Regions from separate parts of the Homo sapiens genome. Here region 2 is linked to region 1. Evidence: fine-mapped expression QTL. A gene starts in region 1. The other region holds a variant in brackets. All regions are shown on one strand. Distances are from middle to middle.

Evidence for each region. PIP is the estimated chance that this variant, and not a neighbour inherited with it, causes the effect. A credible set is the group of variants that fine-mapping cannot tell apart.
Region 2: its variant is the best candidate, but not a certain one, in a credible set for the expression of KIF13A in testis (GTEx, PIP 0.74).

Annotation. Positions count from the first base shown.
Region 1 is chr6:17,986,211-17,989,125 of GRCh38, forward strand. It overlaps KIF13A (kinesin family member 13A), which reads right to left and starts at 1,425. Exons shown (of 39, transcript NM_022113.6): 1 at 1,199-1,425; 2 at 844-934. The coding sequence starts at 1,253. RefSeq lists silencers at 1,011-1,130, 1,501-2,000.
Region 2 is chr6:17,837,727-17,840,641 of GRCh38, forward strand. All of the region lies in intron 9 of KIF13A (kinesin family member 13A), which reads right to left. Among named protein-coding and RNA genes, the nearest start is that of NUP153-AS1, 130 kb to the left of the region's middle. The variant T/G (reference allele first, on the strand shown) is at 1,466.

The sequences.
Region 1 (2,915 bases):
TATATATATTTACAAGCTACTGCATTATTATATTGAATGAATTCCAACCGATTTCTTCTCAGAGGCTTACTAGAAAAATGCCAAATATTCAAATTATTTTGGGGCGTTAACCCATACTGTTGCATGGAACAGAACGGAATTAATAAGGATCCAACAGTTACCACTTTTCAAATGCAAATATGTTGCCATCTAGTAAATACAGCCCCTTTTTAAACATCCCTCAGTGTCTATACAGTTCAGGGCCCTACTTTTGTTTCTTTGAAAATCAAAATTCGCGCATTACATTGAGGCATTATCTCAACTCAGCAACAACAACTAAAATAGATACTAACTAGTCCAGCCTGAGTCTACATCGTACAAGACTTTTGCTTTATTTTTTCCTCCCATTTTAGACACACTGTCCCTAAACAATTCTGCCAAAGGAAACAAACCCTGCAGTGATGAAAAGAATCACGGACACTGGGTTCCACGAACAATAAGGTCGTGGGCTGGTCACCTGCCCGCCTCGGGCCTCAGTTTTCCTGTCTGTAAAATGTGGCCGCTGGACGAATCACCTATGGGGTCCCATCCGGCCCTCTCCCTCCCGGGTGCCTCGCAGCCCGCCCGGGCTCAGCTGACTGGTGCTGTGGCCAGGGTGCCCTGCCTGCCGCCGCTCTAGATGGAGGAGAAGGGGGGCGAGGGAGGAGAGGAACTTGGACTTGCAACAGCTTCAAACAGGAGCCGGCGACAAACTTGAAGCCGTCCTCCTAACAATAGGAAAGAGCACTCCCATTTTCCTGGCTCAAACTTGCGGGACCCCGCGAGGCTGGATCCTCCCAGCCGCCCTCTCGGAACCCGCTTTACCTTTCTCCCTGTTTGGTGTTAGAAGGAGGAGGGTGCAGGACCGTTTGATTCCCTTCCATCTCCACCACGCACTTGGTGTTCAGTTCCAGTTCTGAAAGCAGAGAGAAAGGGACGTTGCAAAGTCCAGCATCCGCGCCTCCAGCCCGCCCGCCCGCCAGCCGCGCCGAGCGGGGCTCCGTCCCTGGAGGCGGCCGAGCCTGGAGACGGCGCCCCGGGCACCACGGCCAGCGCGGACGCCGCCTCCGCCCCGGCCCCCCGGCCCCGGCCGCGCTCTCGCCGTCCCGGCCCCGCAGTTTCTAAAGTTGCCCCCGCCCTCAGCCCGAGCAGAAATAAAAAAGAGCGGAAAGCTCCTCACCTCGTCGGTTCATGGGCCGGACCCGGACGGCAACTTTTACCTTGGTATCCGACATGTTGGCTGCGCTCGCCCGGCCGCTCGCCGCGCCCGCTCGGCCTTAGGCGGCCCCTCACGCGCGGCGCCGCCGCCGCTGCAGCCGCGCGCCCCTCGAGCGCGGCCGCCGCCGCTCCGCCGTGAGCTCCGAGAGGCAGCGCCGAGGCGCGCGGGCCATCCCGGGGGAGCGCGACGCGGGGCACGGCCGCGGCCCGGGGAGGGGCGGGCGCGCGGGGCGGGGCGCGGCGGCGGCGGCGGCGGCGGCGGGCGGGGAGGAGGCCTCGCCGGCGGGCCCAGGCGCAGCTCTAGCCGCGCCGCCCCAGCCGAGACCGCAGCGCCGCGGCCCCTCGCGGCTGCCCGGGGCCCCGCGCCGCCATGTTCCGCGCCCGTCACCCGCCGGGGCTCGGGAGAGGCCGGACACGGCCACGCGCGGCGCCCCCTGGAGCGGCGGGACGGCAGTGAGAGGAGCGGCGAGCAGCGCGGCGCTTAGGGGAGGCTGGAGTCCGGGGCGGGACGCATTGTTTCCCCAGGGGACCTCCCAGGCCAAGCCTGCACCGGCGCCCGCGGGGCCCCCCCCCGGACACCGCCGTGAGCTCGAGCCGCCTTCTGGGGCCGCTGCCACCCGGAGCCCCGGGACGGCAGCAAGGACCACGGCTCGCCGCGCTGGGTGCGCAGGCCTTCCCCTCCGAGTCCCGGCACGCCGCCCCCTCTGTCCCACACGGAGCCTGCAGCGGTATTTTAAGATCTCTGTGGTGAACCGAGACTAGAAATGAATCTGTGAATCCACCACCGAAACAGTGTATGTTTGTAAATAGTGCTCTCCCTTCCTTTCCCGGCCTCTCTTGTCTCGGGAGGGATGTCAAGTGGGCTGGGAGGGCCATTAACTCTTACATAAGAATTTAATAGCAATGGATTCTGTCATCCTGCCAAATGCAGACCTCGCTGCCAGGGCGGAACTGGGCGAATCCGATTTATTCTGTTTGGTTCAACAAGTGCTTAAGGGGCGCTCACCGAGTGCCAGGCATTTTGAAGCGTACAGAAGTCAAAAATCCAGAGTTTAGATCCAGGAATCTTTCGATTTTGCTTAAATCTAGAAATCCACTTATTGGAAGATGCATTGAGGTTTTACTGTGTGCAGGGTGCTGTTGAGGACACACAGAAACATGAATAGCATGATGCAGAGGCACACGCTAAGGTGGAAGAGAGGGCGTGGAGACTTATTATGCTAGACAGTGTACGGCAGGTGCTAGGAGAGGGGTCCGTCCGCCTCCAACCGAGGTGATGCTACGCTTGACCCTCGAACAACACGGGTTTGAACTGCACGAGTCCACTTACACGTGGCTTTTTTTCAACCAAAATCTGATTGAAAATACAGTATTCGTGCTCTGGCACAGTGCCTTACGCCTGTAATCCCAACACTTTGGGAGGCCGAGGCGGGAGGATCACTTGAGGCCAGGAGTTCGAGACCAGCCTGGGCAATGTAAAGAAACCCCATCTTGCCAAACATAAAAATTTAAAAAATAGCCGGGCATGGTGGCAGGTGCCTGTAGTCTTAGTTACTGGAGAGGCTGAGGTGGGAGGATCACTTGAGCCTGGAAGGTTGAGGCTGCAGTGAGCCATGTTCGCACCACTGCACTCCAGCCTAGGCAACAAAGCAAGACCCTGTCTCAAAAAAAAAAAGGGA
Region 2 (2,915 bases), 150 kb before region 1:
GAATCACTTGAGGCCAGGGGTTTGAGACCACCCTGGCCAACATGGTGAAACTCTGTCTCTACTAAAAATACAAAAAATTAGCTGGGCGTGGTGGCAGGTGCCTGTAATCCCAGCTACTTGGGAGGCTGAAGCAGGAGAATCTCTGGAACCCGGGAGTTAGAGGTTGCAGTGAGCCGAGACTGTGCCACTGCACTGCAGCCTGGGCGACAGAGTGAGACTCTTTCAAAAAAACAAAAACAAAGAAACCCCAAAAAACCAAAATATCATAAAAAGAAAGTGCTTTGTAAATGGTTTAAAAAGTTAAATGCAGCTGGGAGTGGTGGCTCACACCTGTAATCCCAGCACTTTGGGAGGCTGAGGCAGGTGGATCATGAGGTCAGGGGTCAGGAGATCAAGACCATCCTGGCCAACATGGTGAAACCCCATCTCTACTAAAAATACAAAAATTGCCAGGCGTGGCGGCGTGTGCCTATAGTCCCAGCTACTCGGGAGGCTGAGGCAGGAAAATTGCTTGAACCCGGGAGGCGGAGGCTGCAGTGAGCCAAGATCGCGCCACTGTACTCCAGCCTGGGCGACAGAGCAAGACTCCATCTCAAAAAAAAAAAAAAGTTAAATGCTACTACAAATAACAAAGAAGGACACAAACTAGCAAGTGAAAGACTAGACAGCTTTCTTTGTAATGTTAACAATAGATTTCCATCAAATAAGCTGAAAGGAAAGCAGCCTATTTCCCACAAAACATAATTCCCCAAAGACGAGTCACTGAAAAGTCCCCGAAATATAATATAAACTCAAGATTCAGAAAATGAACCAGAATTCATTTGATCAGAATGGCTGTTAGAATTTTAATAACAGCCATTACCACAGAGTGGCATAAATATGTACATCATCTTAAGTGAAACAAGTCAAAAAAATTAAAATAAAAATATATAAAAGAAACAAGTCAGACACAGAAAAACAAATATTGCATGTCCTTACTCATAAGTGGAAGCTAAATAACGTGTACTCATGGACATAGAGACTGGAATGGACAATGGAGACTTGGAAGGGTGAGGGAGTGGAAGGGGAGAGGATGACGAGCTTATTTTTTTGTTTGTTTGTTTTTTGAGATGGAATCTCGCTCTGTCACCCAGGCTGGAGTTCAGTGGCATGATATGATTTTGGCTCAATGCAACCTCCACCTCCCAGGTTCAAGAGATTCTCCTGCCTCAGCCTCCTGAGTAGCTGGGATTACAGGCGCCCGCCACCACATCTGGCTGATTTTTGTATTTTTAGTAGAGATGGAGTTTCACAATGTTGCCCAGGCTGGTCTTGAACTCCTGATCTCAGGTGATCCACCCATCCTGGCATCCCAAAGTGCTGGGATTATAGGCGTGAGCCACTGCGCCCAGCCAAGAAGCTTAATTAATACTTAATGAGTACAATGTATGTTATTCAGGTGACGGATACCTTAAAAGCCCCGACT[T/G]GACCACTGCACAATCTGTGCCTGTAACAAAATTGCACTTGTACCCCATACATTTATCCACAAAAATGTACATCATACTTGACAGATTTAAAGGTGAAACAAATCTAACCCAAGAGAAGTGAAAACATAAGTCTACACAGAAACTTGTACATGAATATTCAAAGCAGCTTTATCCACAAAAGTCAAAATGTGGAAACGACCACATGCCCATCAAATGATGAAGTGATGAATAAAATCTGGTATATACACACAGTGGAATATCATTTGGCCATAAAAGGGAATAAGTTCAGATACATGTATCACAACAACTACAACACGGATGAACCCTGGCAAATTATTTTACGTGAAAGAAGCCAAACACAAAAGGCCATTGTCCTGGGTTGAACAGTATTCATGTCCGCCAGACCCTCAGAATGTGACCCTATTTGGAAAAAGGGTCCTTGCAGATGTAATCAGTTAAGATGAGATCATACTGGATTAGGGAGGGCCCTAATCTAATGAGTGATGTCCTTATAAGAAGGTCATATAAAGACACCCAGGGGAGACGGCCACGTGAAGATGCAGGCAGAGACTGGAGTGATGCATCTACAAGACAGGGAACGCCGAGGATTGATGGCCCTACAGAAACAAGGGGAGAGGCATGGAACAGATTCTCCCTCTGACCTGCTAAGAGGGAACAAACCCTGCTGACCCCTTGATTTCAGATTTCTCGCCTGCAGAATTGTGAGAAATAAATTTCTGTTGTTTTAAGCTACTCAGTTTGTGGTAATCTGTTACAGTAGCAATAGCAATCGAACACAGCCATATACTGTATGATTCCATTTATATGAAATATCTAGAATAGGCAAATCTATAGAGATGGAGGCAGTGGTTGACTAGGGCTGTGGGTGGGGGTAATAGGGAATGATTTGGATACAAGGTTTCTTTTGGGTATGATGAAAATGTTTTAAAATGAGACTGTAGTGATGGCGGTACAACTCTGAATATATTAATGCTACTGAATTGAACACTTTACAATGGTGAATTATATTGTATGTGAGTTACTTAATACAGCTGTTCAAAAAAATTAAATATGTCCAATCACTCCTCCAAAGGTAACAATTTTATGAAAAAAATACTGTATGTGATAATAGAGGCAAGTAGGAGTTCAATAAAAGGTAAAAACACATTTCTGCTTTAATATAGAATACAGGGCATTTTTTTCACATTTTGCAACTATTGATATTTTTGATTGGAAACAATTCTTTGAACTATCCCAGATATTTTACTATCTATGTGTGGCACATATTATTTTAATTCACACAAGCTCTAAAGAGTTCAGTGACTTAAAAGTCAATATTAGTAACTTTATGGTTGACAGTGACCTTTCACATGAAAATACATTTTGGAGATGACATGGATTTATCCATCACCGAGAGAAGACTTTCCTCTACTTTGTGGCAACTACTTA